7 linked regions of the Homo sapiens genome follow. The protein of the gene in region 5 purifies or fractionates together with the protein of the main gene of each other region. This does not show direct contact. Each region holds a gene or a part of one and is shown on either strand. Other genes may lie near its edges. The genes, in order: PPT1, LMAN1, TMTC3, NUCB1, LETM2, PKN2 and MORC2.

Region 1 (3,500 bases), on a different chromosome or scaffold from region 5:
TCCTTTACACCTCAGAGCACTAGGTACTCCTGAAACACCTGACTCATGTCCAATATGGGTGAAGCTTGTTAGGCTCTTGATTATGTGCTCTAGCTTATTAGGCACTGGGTTACAAAAATCCACTACATCCTGAAACCTTATGGTTTCCAAACAACAAGAGAAACCTCATGTCTGATTCCCTTCTTTTGATAAAAAGGTTTTAAAACTAGCTGCCTTGGCTGAGGTACAGTCTGCTACAAATCCAGGAAGCCTCCATGCATGATGAGGGGCATTCCTTTTTTTTTCTTTGAGACGGGGTCTCGCTCTGTCACCCAGGCTGGAGTGCAGTGGAGCAATCTTGGCTCACTGCAACCCCTGCCTCCCAGATTCAAGCAATTCTCCTGCCTCAGCCCCCTTAGTAGCTGGGATTACAGGTGTGTGCCATCACACCTGGCTAATTTTTGTATTTTTAGGAGAGATGGAGTTTCACCATGTTGGCCAGGCTGGTCTTGAACTCCTGACCTCAGGTGATCCACCCACCTCAGCCTCCCAAAGTGCTGGGATTACAGGCGTGAGCCAGTGCGCCTGGCCAAGGGACATTACTTTTAAACATTAATAGATGTGAAATCCTGTTTCTAAATTACGCACTGACAAGGGAGGCTCCTGCAGGAGGTTGAGTGGGACTAGAGTTTTGAATTTTGTTTAGCAGTAGGTCCTGTATCTTAAGCAGAAGTTGCAGTAATTTGCCACCTCCAGTTCTGGGGCCTTCTACACTTTAAGGATTTTTTTTTTTTTTTTTTTTTTTTTTTTTTTTTGAGACAGTCTTGCTTTGTCACCCAGGCTGGAGTGCAATGGTGTGATCTCAGCTCACTGCAGCCTCCACCTCCTGGGTTCAAGCGATTATCCTGCCTCAGCCTCACTAGTAGCTGGGATTACAGGCACACGCCACCATGCCTAATACTTTGTTTTGTTAGTAGAGACGGGGTTTCACCATGTTGGCCAGGCTGGTCTTCAACTCCTGACCTCAGGTGATCCACCTGCCTCAGCCTTCAAGAGTGCTGGGATTACAGGTGTGAGCCACCACGCCCAGCCCTAAGGATTTTATATTGGAGACAGACTCTCCAAAATGCTAAGTACTACATCTGAACCAATCACCGTCTACTAGAATTCCTCCATGTTATTTCAGAGGTCATTTGTCTCCTCTTGGCTTGGCTTTTCTTTTGCACTGGGTGCCTCAACTTGGGTGGTGAGGTAAAAAGGGAAGCTAGAATCTGATTTGAGAAAAAAAAAAAAAAAGGCTTGAGAAATTACAGCTAAGAACTTCCTTACTGTGAAAACTCAAAATGATGTTGGCCACGGCAGAAGCACCATTCTGGCACTGTCGTAACTGCTTATCTTCCCAACCAGAGGTTGTTCTCCAGCATCTAGGCTATGGGTAATGACATTTTCAACTCCAGAATATGAAAGTGTCCAGGGTTTGTTACCTAACGGTTGGATATGGTTTTTCTGTTTTGTTCTTTTGAGACAGTTTTGCTCATTGCCCAGGCTGGAGTGCAATGGCATGATCTCAGCTCACTGCAACCTCCGCCTCCCGGGTTCAAGCGAATTCTCCTGTCTCAGCCTCCCAAGTAGCTAGGATTACAGGTGCCCGCCACCATGCCCAGCTAATTTTTGTATTTTTAGTAGAGACAAAGTGTCATCATATTGGTCAGGCTGGTCTTGAACTCCTGACCACAGGTGATCCGCCTGCCTTGGCCATCCAAAGTGCTGGGATTATAGGCGTGAGCCACCGCGCCTGTCCTGGGTTGGATGTTTTTTAAGTTACCTAGCTAATGTTCTGTCTTTGGCTCAGTCCCACTTACCTATGGCATTCTGAGGCAGTGTCGTCTATGGCTTGCCCACCTATAGGTAGTCCTCTGACTCTGAGCTTTTCAAAAATCAGAATCTAGAACACTGTATAGAGCAATCTCAATTGCATATCTATTTTTAATACTTAGAAAAAACTGGCCGGGTGTGGTGGCTCACGCCTGTAATCCCAGCACTTTGGGAGGCCGAGGCACGTGGATCACCTGAGGTCAGGAGATCAAGACCATCCTAGCTAACACAGTGAAACCCCATCTCTACTAAAAATACAAGAAATTACCCAGGCATGGTGGCATGCGCCTGTAATTCCAGCTACTCATGAGGCAGAGGCAGGAGAATCGCTTGAGCCAGAGAAGTGGAGGTTGCAGTGAGCCGAGATCGCACCACTGCACTCCAGCCTAAGCAACCGAGCAAGACTCCGTCTTGAAAGAAAGAAAGAGAAAGAGAGACAGAGAGAGAGAGAGGAAGAAGAAGAAGAAGCGGGGGGGACAGGAGGAGGGGGAGGAGAGAAGAAAGAAAAGAAAGGAAGAAAGAGAAAGAAAGAAAAAGAAAAAAGAGAAAGAAAAAGAAGTAGGAGATATTCTTTTTGGCATTTTTGAAAATACACCTCAATTTTAATACTCAGGACAAACTGCATTTTGAAAATATATCTCAAGTTAACGTACTTACCATTTTACTCCAAAACTTCATTAAGCTTTTTAATTAATTATGGCCTTTCCTTCTGCAGGACCGCCTGGGGCTAAAGGAAATGGACAATGCAGGACAGCTAGTGTTTCTGGCTACAGAAGGGGACCATCTTCAGTTGTCTGAAGAATGGTTTTATGCCCACATCATACCATTCCTTGGATGAAACCCGTATAGTTCACAATAGAGCTCAGGGAGCCCCTAACTCTTCCAAACCACATGGGAGACAGTTTCCTTCATGCCCAAGCCTGAGCTCAGATCCAGCTTGCAACTAATCCTTCTATCATCTAACATGCCCTACTTGGAAAGATCTAAGATCTGAATCTTATCCTTTGCCATCTTCTGTTACCATATGGTGTTGAATGCAAGTTTAATTACCATGGAGATTGTTTTACAAACTTTTGATGTGGTCAAGTTCAGTTTTAGAAAAGGGAGTCTGTTCCAGATCAGTGCCAGAACTGTGCCCAGGCCCAAAGGAGACAACTAACTAAAGTAGTGAGATAGATTCTAAGGGCAAACATTTTTCCAAGTCTTGCCATATTTCAAGCAAAGAGGTGCCCAGGCCTGAGGTACTCACATAAATGCTTTGTTTTGCTGGTGATTTAACCAGTGCTTGGAAAAATCTTGCTTGGCTATTTCTGCATCATTTCTTAAGGCTGCCTTCCTCTCTCAGTACGTTGCCCTCTGTGCTATCATCTTATCATCAATTATTAGACAAATCCCACTGGCCTACAGTCTTGCTTCTGCAGCACCCACTTTGTCTCCTCAGGTAGTGATGAATTAGTTGCTGTCACAAAAGGAGGGAAGTAGCACCCAAATTAAGTTGCTTAAGAGAGGAAATGTACATCTTGTATAACTTAGGGAGCGAAGAAAATGTAGGCGCGAAAGTGAAAAGTGAGGCAGCTAGTTCTTCCTATTCCATTCTCGACCAACCTGCCCTTTCTTAATATGACTAGTGGTCTTGATGCTAGAGT
Region 2 (3,500 bases), on a different chromosome or scaffold from region 5:
TGCAAAAGACATTAGAAAATAAATTTCAATCGATCCATTTTATGACTACTATTCAGTTTTGTTTCATTATTATAAAGAGTAATTTTAAATAACGTTTCCTACTTGGTGTCAATATACAATATATTTTACTTAAAAAAATGAGTTTTGCCCCACTATGTGTCAAAAGTTTAAAGAGAGAAAAATCTGATAACTTTCTATGAAAACCTTTCTAAAATGGAATATGGTTTGCCTTCTCTCAAGAAGACCTAGGGAGTCATCATTACTCCCTTGGAATGGTTCATGCAGCAGAGGGATCAGACTTGTTCTCAGATCCCAGTGACAGCTAAAACCAAGAGGTTAAATTTACAATTTTATCTGCAGCTGGTTGAGAATTAAACAGATTGTCTCAACAAGTAGTGAGCTCCTCTTAATTAAATTAGTGAGGTATCTGGACTGTCACAGGTTAGCAGAGAACAAAAGTGACAGAAGTCATACTGACAAGGCAGAGAAGGAAAAAACTAAAAAGATGTACGTTTCTACTTTGCAAAATGTATATTTGAAGGAATGATCCTAAATTTCTTAACAGAATCTTAGAATCCTAGGCAAGCACAGGAATCCACCTGACACATGAATGCTTTTCTCATTATCCCAGTCAAGCAGTGGTTCAGCCTCTTCAATACATTTCATTTCTAATAATCCTCTCACGAGTCCCACCCTAAACAACAGTCACTGAGGTTCAGGGTGGTTGCAGGAGAAGGCCCAAGGCACCAGAGTAAGGGAACTTGAGTCATTACTTCTAGAGTCAAAATTTTGTCAGAGACTTAAGATTCAGTCACACAGGCAAAATGTTCTGGTATTCTGTCCAAATTTTCAGCAAGAGAATAAAATCTGTCAATATGAAGAGTTACTCTCTATATACTGTAGAATGGAAACATGTGAACTAAAAATTAGTTTAAAATAATTAATTTTAAAAGATCATTTAGCATTTGGTTCATATTAATATGTTTCCTGTGATTAGTAATATTCCTATTTCATTTTACATCATTTACAACTGGTCCTCCTCCACAGAGCCTTTTAAATTAGAATCAACAATCAGGAAGTTATTTGCCTTTGAGTCTTAAAAAGACTGTAGATTATTACATTCAAATTACAATACTAAAATCCTCCAATTGTTCAGTATTTTTTTCCTTGAATTCTAACAAACTGAAAATCCAGCATGAGTCTTCATTGTCTAGTTCCAATTATTTTTATTTATTTATTTATTTTTTGAGACAGGGTCTCGCTCTGTCGCCCAGGCTGGAGTGCAGTGGTGTGATCTCGGCTCACTGCAAACTCTGCCTCCAGGGTTCACGCCATTCTCCTGCCTCAGCCTCCCGAGTAGCGGAGACTACAGGCTCCCGCCACAAAGCCTGGCTAATTTTTTTGTATTTTTAGTAGAGGCGGGGTTTCACCGTGTGAGCCAGGATGGTCTTGATCTCCTGACCTCGTGATCCGCCCGCCTCGGCCTCCTAAAGTGCTAGGATTACATGTGTGAGCCACCGCGCCCGGCCCCAATTTTTTTTTAAAGGACGTAACACATTTCATTGTACTGTGAGTTAGCAGGAATGTTAGGAAGGACTGTAACTGAAAGCCTAGGTACAAACTGTCCACTGATTATTACTTCTTTATGAGATCATCAATAACCTTCCTTATTCACCTTATGGTTTCAAACCATTGTTAAAGACTACACTTGCAATATTTAAGATCTCTTGCTTTGGCTGTGTTTCCCCCACCAACAGCACTTATTGCTTTCAACCTCCTCTTACTTTGTTTTTCCCTCCAATGTGGAAACAACTGGGACAAGCTAGGGTGCAAGTACTCATGAAAATAAATACTTCTTGAGCACTTCACATTGGCACAATATTAGGAACTAGGAGAAATACAGGATATGCCTATTGTGAGAAGTTTACAATCATATTGATAAGAAGAGATATACATATAGTTAATAAGCAAATCAGTACAACATATCTCAAGGCCAAATAAGCATTAGAGAAAAAAAAATACTCTAAGAGTTTAGGAGAGACAGATCATTATGAGCTGTTTAGGAAATCTGATAGAAAAGGGATCTGAATTTGTGTGCTCAAAGCTAAGTATGACTTTAACAAGTAGAAAGAAAAGGAATTATTACCAGACTGAGATGTACAGAGAGGTGAAAACCAATAAGTAGCAGTCACGTGTCCAGCCAGTCTCTTCAAAACGTGTACCTGAAAACACTAGCTCCATGATCACTCATAGACATTAGGTGAAAAAAAATTCCATAGTTAAGTCAGTCTGGGAAATGTGAGGTCTAATAAAGGTTTATTTATCCTTTCTTTATAAAGGATCCTTCATAAAGAAATCTTTAATGTGCTAATATGCAGAGTAGTGACCAATCTCATCAATTGTGGAACCCTTTCTGGGGAGTACGTTTTGCAAGGCTATTGTTTTGGAGTGCTGCCAGGGCTCACAGCCTCACGGTGTTGGGTCACACGGACAGTCTGCACCCACCATGCTTGATGTCTGGGCTTTGCTACATGCAGGTAAGCAAGACTTACTGATGACTCTAATGAAACTGTACAGGGTGAATAATTATAGTGGAATTCAAACCCAAGCTAATTATAATACATTGGACACTTGCTCTATTCTAAGATCTCTAAATTAGCTTGGAATTAAGACTAAGCCAATACAGTTTTCCACAGAACTAACTTTCTCAGAGATTTAGACCCAGGAGTGTAAGTCTAGCTCATGATTTAGGTGAAAGAAAAATTCATACACTATTTTTTTTACTTTTAAGTATTATATAACCAGGTATTAATGGCATCTTTAAAAAGCAAAGTTTACAATGCATAGTGATCTTAGTTATCATAACTGCCAGTTAGATATCTCCACCTATATGTTATGCTAACCTCAATTTACCTACAACTAAACTCATTACCAACCCTCTGATTTCCCATTCCTCCCCCAAACAGATAAAACACAAACAAATGTGCTGCTTCTTTGCTAGTAAATAGTACCAATTAGCTGTCCAATTGGCTATATTCAGGAACTCTCCTTGACTCAACAACTGTGTTCACCCCTAACCCCAAGAAAACTGGTACTAAGAATACTGGGACCTAAGTCATCTTTCTAAATTGCAAATCTGATAATTTCACTTCCTGCTTAAAACCCTTTAAACATTTTTAAAAGCTTCTTATGGGTTAAACTACAGGAAGCTGTGCAAGGCCTGTTACTGCCCTTTCAACCTCACTGCTCACTGATCTCTTCTATCTCCCAGCCACACCAAACTACATGCCTTTCCAAAATATTTCAAGCTCTCTCAAGGGCCTATGCCTGCTTTCTGTGCTTGGAGTACACCCACTCACTCGCACACACACACACCCTCTTCCCCCAACTCCCAGGAACTTCCTGATCTCCCTGTAGGGCACAGCTCAACTCTGAGAAAATGTTCCTGCCCTTCCCCACCTCCACCTGGCAGTTACAGGATTCTAACCACAGGACCGCTT
Region 3 (3,500 bases), on a different chromosome or scaffold from region 5:
CTACCATGCCTGGCTAATTTAAAAATTTTTTTTAGAGGTGGGATCTCACTGTCTTGCCCAGGTTTGTCCCAAACTCCTGGCCTCCAGTGATCTTCCCATTTCTGCCTCCCAAGGCACTGGGATTACAGGCATGAGCGATTGAACCCAGTTAGTTCTTTACAAATAAAATGGGGATTAATAACAACTTACATTATGCTGTTGACATATATATGACATCTTATCTAATAAGTGCTTAACATGGTATCTGGTAGGTGCTCCTTTGTTCTACTTATCCCTTCCAGAGATCTTCAGAAAACATCACCATAAAAAAAATAGCACCTTTATTAGGACTATACTGAAAATAGAGTTATGCTTAAGGCCACAGCTGTTCCATTTTTATATACATTTAAAATTCAGCTTACATTACATACACCATTATTTTATTTGCTGAAACCTTAATTCCCCTACCTCTCCTTTTTTTTTAACCTTTCTTTTAGGAAAACTCCAGCTTTAGATGTATTCTACCGTTTATTTCTTTTGTCTGTATTTACCAGAGTGGCAACGCACTGCTAGAGAAAGTCCCAAAGCTGAACAGATTAATACTGTCATAAAAGCATGAGCACCAAGTTCAAATTTATCCTTAAGACTGTTTGGGATTTCTAGGTTTCTCTGGAAAGTTCCTTCCACTCTTCTTGACTGCTTTGAATCTTCACTACTTTTCTCAAATTTTTGACCCATGTCAGTTTTAGCAGGCAACTACATTTCCTAATTTACAATGAAAGCTGAAGCCATAAAACAAGAATTTCTTTAATTTCCTGCTACTAAACCTACCAACATCCACATTCATTTCTTCTTGTAACATAAGGGGTGTCTCTTCTATCTCAGGCCAAACCTGTGCTCCCTATCTCCTGCTCCTCATAAACTTCACTAACAATTATCCCTTCTCTAATTTATTAACCACTTTCTAATCAACTGTATTCTTCCTATCTATATTTAAACATGCTCTTGTCTCTCCAGCCTTAAACATCTTTAACAATACATTTTTTAAGCTACCTTCCCTATTCGTTACATACCTCAGGTACAAAACAAGTTCTCATGATCTTAGGAAAAGATTTTGTTGCCATAGTATCAAGTAGCCCACTTAACTAATCAACTTAAGTCTACCACTTAACCAATCAACATTTCAGCTTAATAAATATGTTCCTGCAAGCCAACCCATCAGGGATATCCGCATTCAAAAAAGTCAGCTGAGTAGCTGAGTACGCCAATAAAAATGCTTCTATATGCCAACCAATCAACAGTCTCTCCCTGACATTGCTCCCTCCTACCTCTGAAGGTCTACCAATGCCAGATCTCAATGCTTCCCCAGGCCCTACATAAGATAAGCAGTTTGTTATACTTGAAACCATTGCCTGACCAGCATAGTCTTCCCTTAGGGAGGAATTAATCAAGTTTATCCCATCCTTTGAAACAGTCAAAGTTAAATTATTCCTACAGGTCTATACTAGCTCTCTTCACTTCCTCATCAAATCACTCACTGCACATAAACAAATTTCATTTAAGTACCTACAGACTAAAAGAAGTCCAATCCAACAGATTCTAGATCTCACTTTCCCCCTCAAGAGCATCTGTTAGTGTTAACCATTTGGTCTGTAATACACTTTCCTACTTTTCTCTTCATTCGATATGTCTTCTATTCAGGATCCTTCTCTTCAACATCTAAATATAGGAGTTTCTCAAGACCTAGTAGTAGGTATCTTCTCTTTTCACTGTATTTAGCCCACTCAACTGTTTTCTGGGGAGAATTAAGACCAAATACCCTAAGGCTTCCATTATGAGTATGAGTGAACTTCTGTGCATCTAGAATGTTAACAGCTACCATCTTTGACAGAATTGACAAAACCCCAGTTGAGAAAGGCTGCTCTATAACCTCATCTACATTTCACCTTATCTACATCCTGGTTTCAATTACCACCTCTATGTTAATGGATAAGATTTCTATGTGTAACTTAACTATCTTCTATGAACTCCAGACATAAAGTGCTGTTCAAAATGTCCAACAGGATGTTTCAACAGTAATGCAAACTCAACATGTTCAAGGATAATAGACAACACAATCTTTAAATCTACTCTGTATCTCAGACATCCAAATTTCTCTAGAATGTAAGTTCTCTGGAAACGTGAACTGTGTAAGTTCTCTGGAAACGTGAACTGTGTATTTACTATCATAACCTCAGCACCTAAAATGCTGCACTGTACAAAGGGTAAAGTCTAAGTTTTTATTGAATGAATAAATCAATCTAGCAGCTACAGCAAAAAATTATGTATCTGCAATTCATTAAACATACTTTCTGACATATAATAAATGCCTGAGAAAATGTACTATTGTCTTCAATAAACTTTTATTTTTATTTTTGTTTTTTTGAGAAAGAGTATTGCTCTGTCGCCCAGACTAGAGTGCAGTGGCGCAATCTCAGCTCACTGCAAATTCCACCTCCCTGGTTCAAGTGATTCTTGTGCCTCCGCCTCCTGAGTGGCTGGGATTACAGGCACCCACTACCACACCCAGCTACCCAGCTAATTTTTGTATTTTTAGTAGAGACGAGAGTTTCACCAGGTTGACCAGGCTGGTCTCAAACTCCTGGCCTCAAATGATCCACCTGCCTTGGCCTCTCAAAGTGCTGGGATTACAGGCAAGAACCAACGCACCCAGCCTGTCTTCAATAATTAAAAGGGAGAGAAAACATAACTCTTATGAGTATGAAGTGACACAGGGTAAGAAAATAAGAAGAAAAACAGTACAGAAAAACCACCACCAAAAAAAAAAAAAAAAAACTGTTCAAATAATCAGAGTTCTCCGAACATAGTGAAAGCTATCTAAGGGAGTAATAAAAACCACCTTGCTCATGAGAACTGAAAAGCTCTATATTTCTAGTTGTATATCTTATATGATGTTCTTCTCTGTGCCAAGAAAACAAATAATATACAATATAATCAATTTCTTCAAAAAGTGTATAATCTAGTTGGATAAAGGTAACAAATATTTTATGTGCTGAACATATGTCAAATTATGCCTGCAAATTAACTGAGAATTTTGGGATAAACTCAAATACGTTTATAAATTGGGATGCCGTTGAACAAAGAAAGGAGTGCTTCTAAAAAGATGCTTTTGCTGAATTAAAGGTAGTTTCTTACTTATTCAACTGAATGTTAACATCATTTGGAAGTTAAGAAAAGTTTCTTACCATTAAAACAGTCTTGGAGGAATCACCAGAGTATCTGATACTGAATACTCCCAACATCCCCAGAAAACAAAAGAAAGTAAATGTGGCCAGATTTCGAATATCTAGTAATGACTCTATAAGTGGTATTGTTCCCATGGTCCAATCACAGCAGAGCTCTGAAGGATTTAATAACAACCAAGCATTCACAGGAAGGAGGTAGTTAAAAGTTAGTTGCCTTGTAGGAGTTGGGCTTACAGCAGCTGGGTTATCAAACCTGTATAAAGGATTAAAAAAAAG
Region 4 (3,500 bases), on a different chromosome or scaffold from region 5:
GAGAAGCCAGGTCAGGGGTGTTTGGGAGTTTTCTGTACTACTCTTACAACTTTTCTAAAAGTTTGAAGTTCTTTCAACTTTTTTTTTTTGAGATGGGATCTTGTTCTGTCGCCCAGGCTGGAGTACAGTGGCGCAGTCATGGCTCACTATAGCCTTGACATCCCAGGCTCAACGATCCTCCCACCTCAGCTTCCTAAGGAGGTGGGACCACAGGCATGCATTACCATGCCCAGCTTATTTTTTAATATTTTTTATAGAGACAGGGGTCTTGCTATGTTGCCCAGGCTGGTTTTGAACTTCTGGGCTCGAGTGATTCTCCTGCCTCAAAAAGTGTTGGAATTGCAGGCGTGAGCCACTGCACCCGGCCTCTACCAGAATTTTAAATGACAATTTTTTTTTTTTTTTTTTGAGTCAGAGTTTCACTCTGTTGTCCAGGCTGGAGTGCAATGGTGCGATCTCGGCTCACTACAACCTCCGCCTCCCGGGTTCAACCAATTCTCCTGCCTTAGCCTCCTGAGCAGCTAGGATTACAGGCGTGCACCACCATGCCCGGCTAATTTAGTATTTTTAGCAGATATGGGGTTTCACCATGTTGGCCAGATAGTCTCCAATTCCCGACCTCAGGTGACCTGCTTGCCTCAGCCTCCCAAAGTACTGGGATTACAGCCGTGGGCCACTGTGCCCAGCCCATGATAAAGATTTTTAAAAACAACAAATGGAAACAGAATATAAACAAACAACATTGTAATGTTAATATTAAATCATGCTGGGAGGAACACTGGGGCAATCTCCCACGCACATTTCAGCACATTTCGCAGCGGGGAGGGAGGCCTCACCTGCCTAGCACACAACCACCTGGAGGCCGGGAGTGAGGCCACCCTTCCCCACCCCTCCCTGCCTGTCCCTCCCGCCCTGCCCCTGCTCACTGGGATCCTGCTCGGCGTCCATCTTGGCCTTGAGCAGCATCCGCAGCCGTGACACCTCCTGTCGCTTGAGCTCATCCAGCTTGGTGCGGACGTGGTGGCTGACAAAGTCCAGCTCTCGGCTCAGCTTCCCGCTCTGACAGGAGAGGAGACCCTGGTCAGCCTGGGGGCCTGCTCTCTGTCTTCTCTGGAAGCTTCTTATAAGCTTTCTCATGCCCCAGTCTTATACTGCCCCTTCCCTGCTTATAGTCCCCCAGCTCCTCAGAGTCTCCAGGAAGGACAGCTCCCAGCCCGTCAGCCTGGCATTCAAGGCCCTGCCCACCTGTGCTGCCCCATCTCCTGTCATTCATCAAGCCACATGTTTAGGGGCCAGGTGCGGTGGGTCACGCCTGTAATCCCAGCACTTTGGGAGGCTGAGGTGGGAGGATCTCAAGATCAGCCTGGGCAACATGGCAAGTCCCTGTCTCTAGAAACAATACAAAATTAGCCGTGCATGGTGGTGAGACCCAGGTCCATGAGAAGGACAGATCCTGATACGAGGGTTCAGTGTCCTACTCAGTGAAATGGGGACAATGATGGTGCTCCTAGAGGCCTGATATGGGAGTTCATGGTGATGTAAGGGACACCAGCACCTCCCTTATTTTGAATTCTTCCTCTGTAGAAGGCACCATAGGAGCATTCTGTTGACGCAGCCCTCCCACAACACTTGCTAAGGAGTGTCACCATGCTCTTCCAAACCCTTTACACATCTTCCTTTGGAAAATCCAAACCCCAAAATCCTTCCCTTGGAAAATCCAAATCCGAACTGTGCAGCAGGTTCTATGATGTCTCCCATTTTACAGGTGGGGAAACTGAGGCACGGTGAGGGGAGGCCCCATAGCTGGTAAGCGGCGGAGCTGCGACTGAAAGCCTGCCCACGGGACTCTGCACTAAACACGTATTCTGTGTTCCCCAAAGCTCTTCCCAGCTTGTGACCCCAAGAAGCAACTTCTCCCTGAGTCTTACTTTGGTGATTTTCAAATACAGGCACAGCTGGAGCCATGTGGCCCCTTTGAAGAAACCAGTATGGTCAGGCATGGTGGCTCATGCCTGTAATCCCAACACTTTGGGAAGCCGAGATGGGAGGATCACGAGGTCAGGAGTTCGAGACCAGCCTGGCCAACATGGTGAAACCCCGTCTCTACTAAAAATACAAAAATTAGTCAGGCATGGTGGTGTACGCCTGTAATCCCAGCTACTTGGGAGGTTGAGGCAGGAGAACTGCTTGAACCTGCGGGGTGGAGGTGCAGTGAGCTGAGATCGCACCATCGCACTCCAGCCTGGGTGACAGAGCAAGACTCCGTCTCAAAAAAAAAAAAAAAGAAACCAGTCCTCCCCTGAACTCTGCCCTCCCAGCACGTACCCCTCCCACAGCCCCCACTCCCCCAGCCGCACCTTGATGTCCTCCGCATTGGCAGCCTGCAGCTTCTCTCGGAAATGCCCATCCGTCTCCAGTACATCGATGACCTCCTGGAGGTACCGGTGGTAGTACAGGCCTGTGTCCTGAGGCAACAAGGACAGACATAGCAGCCCCTGCTCCCATCCCCATCCCCACCCTCACTCCTGTTACTGCTATGGCCTGCTCCCTGGGGCAGCTGACAAGGGACTCAGTTTTTACCTTTTCCCACATATGCAGCAAAGATGAAATGAAAATCACATCAGTGAACACCCAGCCCAATACTGCCCAGAGTGGGTGCTCAGAGTGGACATGACTTGTTGGGAAGCTGTGAATCATACTTTTATCCATCCATCCAACCATCCATCCATCCATGCATCCACCCATTCATCCATGCATCCACCCACCCATCCATCCATACATCCCACCCACCCATCCATACATACATCCTACCCACCCATCTATCCACCCATCATCCATCCATCCATCCACCCATCCATCCACTCATCCATCCATCCACCCACCCACCCATCCATCCATCCATCCACCCATCCATCCATCCACCCACCCATCCATCCATCCATCCATCCATCCACTCATCCATCCATCCATCCACTCATCCACCTGCCCATCCATCCACCCACCTATCCATCCATCCATCCATCTATCCATCCATCCATCCACTCATCCACCCACCCATCCATCCACCCGCCCATCCATCCACTCATCCATCCATCCACCCACCCATCCATCCATCCACCCACCCATCCATCCATCCACTCATCCACCCACCCATCCATCCACCCGCCCATCCATCCAACCACCCGTCCATCCATCCATCCACTCATCCACCCACCCATCCATCCACCCGCCCATCCATCCACTCATCCATCCATCCACCCACCCATCGATCCATCCACCCACCCATCCATCCATCCACTCATCCACCCACCCATCCATCCACCCGCCCATCCATCCACCCGCCCATCCATCCAACCACCCATCCATCCATCCATCCACTCATCCACCCACCCATCCATCCACCCGCCCATCCATCCAACTGCCCATCCATCTACCCACCCGCCCATGCATGCATTCATTCATTCAACAAACATTCACCAGGCCCCTATCATATGCCAGGC
Region 5 (4,028 bases):
CATTGCACTCCAGCTTGGGCAATAGAGCGAGATTTCATCTCAAAAATAAATAAATAAATAAATAAATAAATAATGGTAACAGACCCTAATGGGACACGAATATGCCCTAAGACTGGCTGTTCATCAGCCATTTTACTCGCTTTACATCTAAGGACCTCACGTGATGTTCATCAATTACAGAGATGTCACTCTAAAACCAGTACATCTTCTGGCTGGGCACAGTGGCTCACGCCTTTAATCCCAGCACTTTGGGAAGCCCAGGCTGGCGGATTACCTGAGGTCAGGAGTTCAAGACCAGCCTGGCCAACATGGCGAAACCCCATCTGTACTAAAAATACAAAAATTAGTGGGACATGGCGGCGCATGCCTGTAATCCCAGCTACTTGTGAGGCTGAGGCAGGAAAATCTCTTGAACCTGGGAGTTGGAGGTTGCAGTGAGCCAAGATATCATGCCACTGCACTCCAGCCTGGGCAACAGAGTGATAATCCGTCCCAAAAAAGAAAACAAAAACAAACAAACAAAAAAAACTACATCTTCTTTTCTTTTTTTTTTTTGAGATGGATTTTTACTCTTGTTGCCCAAGCTGGAGTGCAGTGGCCCAGTCTTGGCCCACTGCAACCTCCGCCTCCCAGGTTCAAGCGATTCTCCTGTCTCAGCCTCACAAGTGCTGGGATTATAGGTACCTGCCACCATGCCGGCTAATTTTTGCAGTTTTAGTAGAGACGGGGTTTCACCATGTTGGTCAGGCTGGTCTTGAACTCCTGACCTCAGGCAATCCGCTCGCCTTGGCCTCCCAAAGTGCTGGGATTACAGGTGTGAGCCACTGCACCCAGCCTCCAAGAAACTTTTAATTGTGTACTAAGCCAATCCTTTCCATCTAGAAGGATGAAATTCAGGCCAGGCGAGGTGACTCACGCCTGTAATCCCAGCACTTTGGGAGCCCAAGGCAGGCGGATCACCTAAGGTCAGGAGTTCCAGAGCAGCCTGGCCAACATGGTGAAACCTCGTCTCTACTGAAAATACAAAGATTAGCCGGAGGTGGTGGCAAACACCTGTAATCCCAGTTACTTGGAGGCTGAGGGAGGAGAGTAGCTTGAACCCGGGAGGCAGAGGTTGCAGTGAGCCGAGATTGCACCATTGAACTCCAGCCTGGGCGACAGAGTGCGACTCCATCTCAGAAAAAAAAAAAAAAAAGAAGAAGAAGAAGAATTACGTTCATATTGGGGGGTAACTCCAATGCTTACCTTGTTCGAGCAATAGCCAGAACTGAATTATAACTGTAGAAGGCCATATTTATTTTTGTCTCAAGTAGTTAACATAGGGACCTAGGCAAAAGGAGTAAGTAAACAATTTAGTAGTTTAAAAATACATCAATTAAAAGACATCAGGATTTTAGTGTTTTTAACTATTGCAAAGGTAGAACATTTGCATAGTTAAGGTACAAAACCTCCTTCAAGCTCATTTCCAACAATCAGATATTTTCGTAGCTCTGGACTTGAGAATGGTACTTTGAGATTCCAACAAACGGTAATGATCTCTAAGATGATGATGCTCATGAAGATGGTACAATCTTCAGAGACATTTTGATTTCTGGTCAATAGTATCTAGTAATGCAACTTCAATGATTGCCAAGTACTTAAAAGTAGAGCAATACATATCTATCTGTAGCCTTAAAATATAGGTAGAAAGTGAATATTCTGAATTTCTTTTCAGTTAGCATTGTTCTATATTTAGGCAAGTTGTCCCAAACCCTGAATATTGGACGTACCCACTAATCTAATTTATGTAGCAGTGGATGAAGGTAGACATGCAACCTACTAATCGCTCAAGTGGAGGTAAAACTGTTTCCCTTGCTACTGATTCTCCAGAGCCCAAACTGAGCTTTGAACCTGTAAATAACCTTCACCAAAACCCATCTCCATCCAGGGGCGCTTTTCTGCTAAGGGCCGCGAGGAACGGCAGAAGAGCTGACATTCCCAATGGCAGCTTTGCTCTCTTGTGGTTGGGAAAAGAGTTCCAGGAGCTCTCCTGAATAGAAACCTTAGCCACAGAGCTGACATTTTCAACAGGGGCTCGAAACCTGTGGACCCACACTAACGGTGGGTGGTGTTTCGCGGGCAGGAGACGACACCTGAGGCGGCGGTTAATCCGCTCGGGCCCGGGCGCTCCCGGGCGGCGGACACCACTCGCACTCGCATTGGCGCCGCCCCACGCCCGCTGCTCCCGGGCTCCCTCGGCTTTGCCCATCACCACACGGGAGCAAAACGCGCCCTCGGCTTCCTCGCCCGGCGGCTTCGGCGCGCCTGATGTGTGCGCGGCCTGCATGCGGCGGGGTCTGGGGGATATGCTTTGGTTTTCTGGTGCGGAGGTGGGACAGGCACGGGAACGACGACCCTCGTGGATGATCGGGGTTGTTGGAAATGAAGCCGAGGAGAAAGAAGCAGGGCCTGGGACGGAAAAAAGGACGGAGCGCGCTGTGCGGGGAAGGGGGAGGAGAGGCCGAGCTTCAGAGTTCGCGCTGTGCTGGGGAACTGGCGGGGATGAGGTCGTGGGTGGAGGAGAGCGCGGTGGGAACTGGAAGCTGTCAGAAGCCTGGATCATGCTCTGATGAGAGGAGCAGGATGCGGACCGAGCGGGATCCGGAGGAAAAAAAGGCAGCGCGGCCCACCAGGTCGCGGCCTGAGGGCTGGGCCTGCCCACCCCTACCTCCTCGGCCGGGCTCCGCGGAACGGCCGCCTAGGTCCTCCCAGCTCCTTCCCGGGACCCCCAAGCTAGAAGGGCCCGAAGCCAAGTCTCTACGGTTCCGCCTCTTTCCTCGCCCCTGACGTCACTCTGAGTGACGACATCGCCAACCAATAAGCTCTCAAGTTCTGGGGAGGGCGGGCGTCCTTCACCTTAGCAGCCCAGGAAGCCGCAAAGTCGCGTTTACATCGCCGAAGTGACTTCTTTGTGGGGCTTGGTTTAAGGCGCGTTGGTGCTGGGGGGCCCGAAGGTGACGTTTTTCTGCCAGTCCACACTCCGCAGGCAGTGGCTAACGCCCGAGGAAACCCGTGATTGAAGACTGGATTAAACAGGCTCTTTCCCTGACAGCTTAATATGTCTGATAGTCGCCATGGTAACCATTTCGGAGTCATGAATGACATCACTTTGATGTATTCTCCCTCGGACCCTGCAAATCCGGAACTGCCAGAGGGGCGCTGAGAGGATTTGATGGTGTCGCAGAAAGGGCGGGAATCGGAAGGAGCGCATTCCTCTCCCTTCCTCTCCAGAGGCTGGAATACTGTGAAATCTTCATATGGAAATCTGTATTCTACTAAAAATATTTGCTTTCTCAATGGTCCCTTAACAAGTGTTGTTTGTGATTAATAATTTGTATAGAAATCTCAGCATATAAAATGTATGTTATAGTAGCTGTGAAATGACAGACACTGCAGGTTTGAGGGCACTTCAGTTCCTAGGATGGCCAACTGAGCCATCTTGGGAAAATGAAACATCTAGAAATATTCTCATTCCCCAGTTATCTTTTCCCATCCATTTTATCTGGCTCCAGAAGAAAGAGTTAAAAATTTTTTTTATTTAGGCTGGGCGCGGTGGCTCACGCCTGTGATCCCAGCACTTTGGGAGGCCGAGGCGGGCGGATCACAAGGTCAGGAGACAGAAAACATCTTGGCCAACATGGTGAAACCCTGTCTCTACTAAAAAAAAATACAAAAATTAGCCGGGCATGGTGGCGTGCGCCTGTAGTTCCGGCTACTCTGGAGGCTGAGGCAGGAGAATCGCTTGAACCCGGGAGGCAGGGGTTGCAGTGAGTCGAGATCGCGCCACTGCACTCCAGCCTGGGCGACAAGAGCGAGATTCCACCTCAAAAAAAAATTTTTTTTTTCTTAGTGGCTCTACTCGACCACCATACAGCAAGGAATCGCTTTCTCACGGAGAATACGTCTCCTGACATGTGAGCTGACCACAGACTTTACTCATCTGGGCTACACATTTTTAAGAATGGAAGATGGCGGTATTAAACGTCAGT
Region 6 (3,500 bases), on a different chromosome or scaffold from region 5:
CATACCACTGTACTCCAGCCTGGGCAACAAAGAGAGATCCTGTCTCAAAAATAAGTAAATAAAAACAGAGTAGAAAAATTCAATCAAAACCAAAAGAAGGTAGTACTAGAACTCAGAGAAAAAAAGATAAACACTTGCATAAAAAAAAAAACCCGCAAAATGACAGAAATAAGCCCTTTTGTTGTATATAATTTGGCTGGTTTTTGTCCCTGGTTTCTGGAAGACAGCCTCTAAGTCTAAACCTTTGGAATTTCCCCCAGTGATAGGCGTGCCTTTGTTATTCATAGTGGATACCTTAGACCACACCTGGTAAGGTGACTCATGGTGGGCCTCTAGACAGTTTCAGGATGGGGGCTGGCCATGCCAGAAAGAATGATCATATCTTCAGGAGGTTGAGGCTTTGAGCCACATTATCAGTCTGACCTCCTGACCTAGGGAGGGGCACAAGGCTGGAGATTGAATTCAATCATGTGGCCAATGATTCACTCAATCACACCTATGTTAACAAAGCCCCAATGAAAATTCTGCACACCCAATGCTCAAGTGAACTTCCTGGTTGGTGACAGACATTGATGTGTTAGGAGGGTGATATATCCTAAGGACACATAAGGTTTGTGTTTGAGATCCTCTCAGATCTCCCCCTTTATGTTTATTTTCTTTTCGCTGCAGTGAGCCATGAAGGTCCTAATTTGTATCCTTTATAATAAAAACGTAATCCTAAGTATAGTGCTTCCCTGAGTTCTATGATTTGTTCCTGCAAATTACTGAGCTGAGATGCTAGTAGAAATCCTGGAATCTGTAGACAGTTGGTCAGGAGTGCATGTAGCCTTGGAAACTCTAAATTTGCTGCTTGCTTATGAAGTGATGGCAGTTTTGTGGGGGGACTGTGCTACAAACCTATTAAATTTAACCTACCTCTCAGTAGTTACCACCAGGATTATTACATCCTGTCTGTAATTACTTTAAATGTTTCTCTCTCTTTCTTTCTTTCTTAGAGGCGGAGTCTTGCTGTGTCACCCAGGCTGGAGTGCAGTGGTGGAATCATGACTCACTGTAGCCTCAAACTCCTGGGCTCATGCAATTCTCCTGCCTCTGCCTCCCAAGTAGCTGGGACTACAGGTGCATGCAACCTCATCTGGATAACTGTCTTAAACTATTAAATAAACAGCAAACACTGGTCAGATGTGGAGGCACACACCAGTAATCACAGCACTCTGGGAGCCCAAGGCAGGCAGATCACTTGAGGCCAGGAGTTTGAAACCAGTGTGGCCATCATGGTAAAACCCTGTCTCTACTAAAAATACAGAAATTAGCCAGGTGCAGTGGCACATGCAGATCACTTGAGGCCAGGAGTTTGACACCAGTATGGCCATCATGGTGAAACCCTGTCTCTACTAAAGATACAAAAACTAGCCAGGTGCAGTAGCACATGCCTGTAATCCCAGCTACTCGGGAGGCTGAGGCACAAGAATTGCTTGAACCTGGGAGTGGGAGGCTGCAATGAGAGTGAGACTCTGTCTCAATAAAAATGAATTAAAAAAAAAAAAGACTGACAGAATGGATCTTATAAAACAGAATACAATAATATATAATCTAAAAGAGACTCATTTGAACCCAAAGACAAAACCAAAACAAAGTAGGGGTAGCTGTTATAAAATCAGACAAAACAGATTTTAAATTAAATATTGTTATAGGAGACAAAGAAGGACATTATAAAGGAGTTAAGGTAAAGGTAAAGGAGTCAATCCGTCTAGAAGATATAAAAATTGTAAACATACATGAACCTAGCAAAACAGCCCACAATATAGGAAACAAAAATTTACATAACTGAAGGGAGAAATACAGACAGTTCTACAGACATAGTTAGATATATTACCATACTTCCAATAATGGACCTATTAGAACACGATCAAAGAAGAATGAAAAAAAATATTAACTGTTGGTGAGGATCTGGAGATACTGAAACCCACTTTATACATTACTGTTAGAAGTATAAAATAATGTAAATGCTGAGAAGAACAGTTTGACAGTTCCTCAAAATCTTAGATATAGCTACCATATGACCTAGCAATTATATTCCTAGGAATATACCCCCAAATTGAAAACAGATGTTCAAGCAAAAACCTGCACGTAAATGTTCATAGCAGTCTACTCACAACAGTCAAAAGGTAAAAAGAACTCATATGCTCTGACAAATAGGTCAATCAAATATAGTATAGGTTGAGTATTCCTTATCTGAAATCCTTGGGACCAGAAGTATCTCAGATTTTGGAATGTTTATATTATATTATACTTACTGGTTAAGCATCCCTAATCTGGAAATCTGAAATCCCAAATCCAAAATGCTCCAATGAGAATTTCCTTTGAGCATCATGTTGGGTGCACAAAAAGTTTTGAATTTTAGAATATTCCCACAAGTGGAATACTATTCAGACATTAAAAGTGAGTGAAGTACTCATACATACTACAACATGAATGAACCTTGACAACAATATGCTAAGTAAAAGAAGCCAGGCAAAAAAGGTCACAAATTATATAATTTCTATCATATGACAAATCTAGAATAGACAAATCTGTAGAGACAGACAATTAGTAGTTGCTAGCAGCTGGGAGGAAGGGGGAATGGGGAGTGACTGCTTAACAGGTATGCGTTTCCTTTTGGGGTGATGAAAATGCTTTGAAACTAGGTAGTGGTGATGGTCACACAATATTGTGAATATAGCAAATGCTTCCAAATTGAATAAAATTAAAATGGTTAATACAACAAATTTTATTCTATGTGTATCTTATCATAATTTTAAAAATCTATGCACAGGTTTTTCTTTCAATTATTAAATCAGAACCAGTTATAGACAAAAATACACACAAAAAACAATGGCTATACACTACATACCTGTTAGTGCTGCTGGTTTGGATAGTGTACTATATTGATTTTGCGTAGATATCATACTTTGACGTGGACTTAGTGTTGGTGATGCAGCAACAAGTGAAAGTTCTTCAATAATAATCCTGCTTTTGGGATGATTCTTGGGGACTTCGTTTAATCTTTGCTCTAATGAATACTTTAAAAGGTCCAACTTCTGACTTGATTCATTAAATCTTGCTTGAGCCTTGCACAGGGAAAAGACAATTGTTGTCATTTAAATAATCACATACTTTGAATAATGTATTTATTAAACCAAATAAAAATTTTTATTTAAAATTACTTCTGAAAGTGCTTTTCTGTCTGTTACTTTTCCTGAGCCAAGTAATTTCATTACATTCTTTGCACCTTCTGCTACTGCAAACTCTATCCTAAAATGATGCCTTAATTCTTCCATCCGAAGTTCAAGAGGACTTATCACAGGTTTTGCTAGAAAGGAAAAAAAAATTTTAATTGCACCATTTATCTGACTTTCCAATTTGCAGTGATTAAAATCATGAAAAGAAATGAATTCCTATAACATTACAATAACTTAGTCCTTACATCAATAAACACTGAAATAAAAATATTTGATATG
Region 7 (3,500 bases), on a different chromosome or scaffold from region 5:
GAACTGACCCTGTGACCAATCACAGGCAACTTAAAGTCCCAAACGTAGTCAGCACTGCCAGAGCCTCTTATACAGCATCCCTCTAACAATGCCCCAGAGAAACGCGGCCACATCCTCGACCCATGGGAGACAGCAGGCCAAGGGGCACTGGCCCCTACCTGGGCTTGTACAGGCAGCAGGAGAGCCTCTTGGTCTGCACCTTGTGCCCATGGATGAAGATCCTCATCCGGGGATCAATATAGAGCACAGCGGCATAGGCACGGAACGAGCGCCGCTCTGGCTTCCTGGAGAGGGCAAAAACAGAGAAGTGCTGTCACCTGCTCCACAACAGGCCTGACCAAGGGCACAACATCCTCTCTGCAGGCTCTCCACCTTTCCATGTTAGGTACTGACTTCTGCTGCTGCCCTGAACTGGTGCTCCCTTAGTGTGAGCACCACATCCCGCCCCTCTCACGTCCTCAGCACAGGCACCCCACAGGCAACTGAGCTGGCCCTACATACTACCCTACCACAGAACACTGGGCAATGAATGTGCTCTCCCCTCTTTCCCTGAAGCCATCTCCTGAGAGCACAAACGCCAGTTCCAGGGCCTCCCTCCCTTCCCAGCCACACTCACGTGCCCTCTGGGGACGTCTCTGCCATCTGGATATCTCTTGGATTTGAGATTATGTCTAGTTCTGGCTCTCCATTATCCATGAGTTTGAGATTGAAGATGATCACCAATGTTCCTGAGAAACAGAAATCTTTTGTCCTGCCAGATCCCCCGGCCCACCCCCACACTACTTGTGATTCTGGAGCTCCCAGATTCTAGGGGCTACAGGCTCAAAGCCTACTTACCGCTGTCCCCAGGAATCTTCATAAACTGGGTCATCACTTCCTCCTCAGTGCGGAATGGAGAGTACTTATAGATGAGTTCTGTCTCAATGGCAAATTTCTCTACATTGTCTGTGACAGGTTCCCGGGTCCGAGCATTCCAGGTGGGCAGTGGGACTATCACCTGTGGAGTAAACATGAGCAGGCACTTTAAGGGAAGCCCCAGAACAGCCTTCCTCCCAAATGTGCATCTCTCTTGTCCCTCCCCACAGCAGCTCCACACTGCCCTGTAGGTGAGGCCCAAGCTCCACAGCCTGGCACCAGAGGCTCTGTGAGCTTCAGGGCTTCTGCCTCTTCCCAAGACTCAGCCACACAAGACTACTTCCTTCAGGAGATGTTGGTTTATGTGCTTAGGGTCTCTGCATGAGAAGTTCCCTGCTTGGGACGTCCCTGGTCATTTTCTTAATTTGGTAAAAATTCTACTCTTACCACTAGGGAAAATATATTTGCAATTATCTAGTGAATCAGTAAATACACATAACATAACCTAAAACTCAGCAATTCCACTCCTAGGTACATACCCTAGGAGAAACTTTTGTACATATGTACCAGTAAACATGTACAAAAATAACCCAGGCCTGGTGCAGTGGCTCATGTCTGTAATCCCAGCACTTTGGGAGGCTGAGGTGGATGGACTGCCTGAGCTCAGGAGTTTGAGACCAGTCTGGGCAACATGGTGAATCCCGGTCTCCACTAAAATACAAAAAATTAGCCGGGCGTGGCAGCGTGCGTCTGTAGCCCCAGCTACTCAGGAGGCTGAGACAGGAGAATTGCTTGAATCTGGGAGGCGGAGGTTGCAGTGAGCTGAGATCGTGCCACTGCACTCCAGCCTGGGCAACAGAGCAAGACTCCATCTCAAAAATAAATAAATAAATAAAAATAACCCAAATATCCATTCTAGAGTGGCCAAATTAAACTGTACAATGGAACACTATATAGTGATACAAATGAACTAACCACTACTAGCATCAACATGGATGAACAACATAAACACAGTGTTATATGAAATAGGATACAAAAAATACCTACAGTAAGAGTCCATTTCTAAAAAATTCACAAATAGGCAAAACTAAACTATTATTTAAAAATGCATACAAGGGTGACAAACTATAGTGAAAAAGAAGGAAATCATTATCACAAAAGTTACCTGAAGGCAGTTCCTTCGGGGGCACAAGAAGAAATATGACTGATGAGGGCACACAGGACACTTCTAACATCAGTCTGTGATGGTGGCAACACAGGTGTTGCCTTTAAAATTGTCCTCTGAACTGCATAAATATTTCAATACACTCTTCCATTTATGTGAAATTTAATTTAAATAATGTCTAAGTGATGTTTTAAAAAAATCCTACTCTTTCTTCAAAAACCCAACCTCATATGCCACTTCCCCAGAGGCTCCTCCCTCGGTGGTTATGAGGCCGCAGCCCTTGCAGAGCCCTGCAGATGGCTGCCTGAAGGATTTCCTCTGCAGAGCAGGCCAGGCTAAGCACCTCAGGGGTTCAAACCCTTAGGAAAAAGGGACTCTGTAATCTTAACAAGTGCTGGGGTGACAAACTGTTAAGAGTTCTGAGACATTTTGCTGGGTTTTTTTATTTTATTTTTTTTGAGACGGAGTCTTGCTCTTGTTGCCCAGGCTGGAGTGCGATGGCATGATCTCAGCTCAATGCAACCTCCACCAATGGCACGATCTCGGCTCACTGCAACCTCCGCCTCCTGGGTTCAAGTGATTCTCCTGCCTCAGCCTCTCAAGTAGCTGGGACTAGGCGTACACTGCCATGCCCAGCTAATTTTTCTATTTTTAGTAGAGACGGGGTTTCACCATATTGGTCAGGATGGTCTTGACCACATGATCTGCCCGCCTCAGCCTCCCAAAGTGCTGGGATTATAGGCGTGAGCCACCAGGCCCGGCCCATTTTGCTGGTTTCTAAGAAGCTTTGTGCTGCAACTATTCAACCCAAGGGCTGGTCTGGACACATTCCTCCTCAACTGAAAATGATCTTATTTTGAAATCTTGGCTGAGTTTGCACTAGAGTACAATCCAAAATAGCGACCTTCTAGCACCAAGTAAGGAAAAAATCTCAACCTAGCCTCTCCACCACGGGAACCGAGTTCCATTTGTGTTCTATAAACCTGTACCTCACTACGCCTCCCATTCTTCACAGCCATCCCAGGTGACAATGGCATCACTTTAAACATTGGCTTTCACTCCCATGGGCACCCCATCCCTCCCCTCAGGAACACTTCTCCTTTAGTTCAATGGTACACTTGCCCAGTTTTCTTCCTACCTTTCTGGCTACCCCTTTGTCCCTCTGGCCCCCTTCTCCTCTCCCCGACCTTTAGATATTGACATGCTCTAGGTCCCAGATCCTCTTCTCACTCTATTCTCTCCATTAGGTGACCTCGTTTGCTACCAAGAATGCTGAAGCCCCCAGACTTCCCCCAAATGCCAGACCCAGACTGCACTTTGCATGTCCAGAAGAAACTTACACTCTTCCCCTCCATACTTCCCCTCTTCATTCTTCCCAATTCCAGAGACCCCACTCCCCAACTGCCACAGCAGAACCTATGAGTCATCCATGACTCCCCTGCTTCGCTTTCGCCTTCTACTAATCAATCAATCACCAAAT

Evidence for each region.
Region 1: the proteins of LETM2 (region 5) and PPT1 purify together in Homo sapiens (affinity purification with mass spectrometry; one large-scale study listed by BioGRID and IntAct). This does not show direct contact.
Region 2: the proteins of LETM2 (region 5) and LMAN1 purify together in Homo sapiens (affinity purification with mass spectrometry; one large-scale study listed by BioGRID and IntAct). This does not show direct contact.
Region 3: the proteins of LETM2 (region 5) and TMTC3 purify together in Homo sapiens (affinity purification with mass spectrometry; one large-scale study listed by BioGRID and IntAct). This does not show direct contact.
Region 4: the proteins of LETM2 (region 5) and NUCB1 purify together in Homo sapiens (affinity purification with mass spectrometry; one large-scale study listed by BioGRID and IntAct). This does not show direct contact.
Region 6: the proteins of LETM2 (region 5) and PKN2 purify together in Homo sapiens (affinity purification with mass spectrometry; one large-scale study listed by BioGRID and IntAct). This does not show direct contact.
Region 7: the proteins of LETM2 (region 5) and MORC2 purify together in Homo sapiens (affinity purification with mass spectrometry; one large-scale study listed by BioGRID and IntAct). This does not show direct contact.

Annotation. Positions count from the first base shown.
Region 1 is NC_000001.11:40,073,253-40,076,752, reverse strand, and holds part of PPT1 (palmitoyl-protein thioesterase 1 isoform 1 precursor), read left to right. Parts: intron 1-2,569; coding exon 2,570-2,692; 3' UTR 2,693-3,500. UniProt on the Homo sapiens protein: Has thioesterase activity against fatty acid thioesters with 14 -18 carbons, including palmitoyl-CoA, S-palmitoyl-N-acetylcysteamine, and palmitoylated proteins. In contrast to PPT2, PPT1 can hydrolyze palmitoylated proteins and palmitoylcysteine.
Region 2 is NC_000018.10:59,349,266-59,352,765, forward strand, and holds part of LMAN1 (protein ERGIC-53 precursor), read right to left. Parts: intron 1-3,500. UniProt on the Homo sapiens protein: Mannose-specific lectin. May recognize sugar residues of glycoproteins, glycolipids, or glycosylphosphatidyl inositol anchors and may be involved in the sorting or recycling of proteins, lipids, or both.
Region 3 is NC_000012.12:88,166,307-88,169,806, reverse strand, and holds part of TMTC3 (protein O-mannosyl-transferase TMTC3), read right to left. Parts: intron 3,478-3,500; coding exon 3,225-3,477; intron 1-3,224. UniProt on the Homo sapiens protein: Transfers mannosyl residues to the hydroxyl group of serine or threonine residues.
Region 4 is NC_000019.10:48,903,312-48,906,811, reverse strand, and holds part of NUCB1 (nucleobindin-1 precursor), read right to left. Parts: intron 2,466-3,500; coding exon 2,358-2,465; intron 1,060-2,357; coding exon 927-1,059; intron 1-926. UniProt on the Homo sapiens protein: Major calcium-binding protein of the Golgi which may have a role in calcium homeostasis. Acts as a non-receptor guanine nucleotide exchange factor which binds to and activates alpha subunits of guanine nucleotide-binding proteins (G proteins).
Region 5 is NC_000008.11:38,385,248-38,389,275, reverse strand, and holds the start of LETM2 (LETM1 domain-containing protein LETM2, mitochondrial), read right to left. Parts: upstream 2,801-4,028; 5' UTR 2,708-2,800; intron 2,135-2,707; exon of another isoform or gene 1,770-2,134; intron 1,327-1,769; 5' UTR 1,293-1,326; coding exon 1,246-1,292; intron 1-1,245.
Region 6 is NC_000001.11:88,771,273-88,774,772, reverse strand, and holds part of PKN2 (serine/threonine-protein kinase N2), read right to left. Parts: intron 3,353-3,500; coding exon 3,207-3,352; intron 3,111-3,206; coding exon 2,894-3,110; intron 1-2,893. UniProt on the Homo sapiens protein: PKC-related serine/threonine-protein kinase and Rho/Rac effector protein that participates in specific signal transduction responses in the cell.
Region 7 is NC_000022.11:30,941,275-30,944,774, forward strand, and holds part of MORC2 (ATPase MORC2), read right to left. Parts: intron 998-3,500; coding exon 838-997; intron 729-837; coding exon 617-728; intron 285-616; coding exon 159-284; intron 1-158. UniProt on the Homo sapiens protein: Essential for epigenetic silencing by the HUSH (human silencing hub) complex. Recruited by HUSH to target site in heterochromatin, the ATPase activity and homodimerization are critical for HUSH-mediated silencing.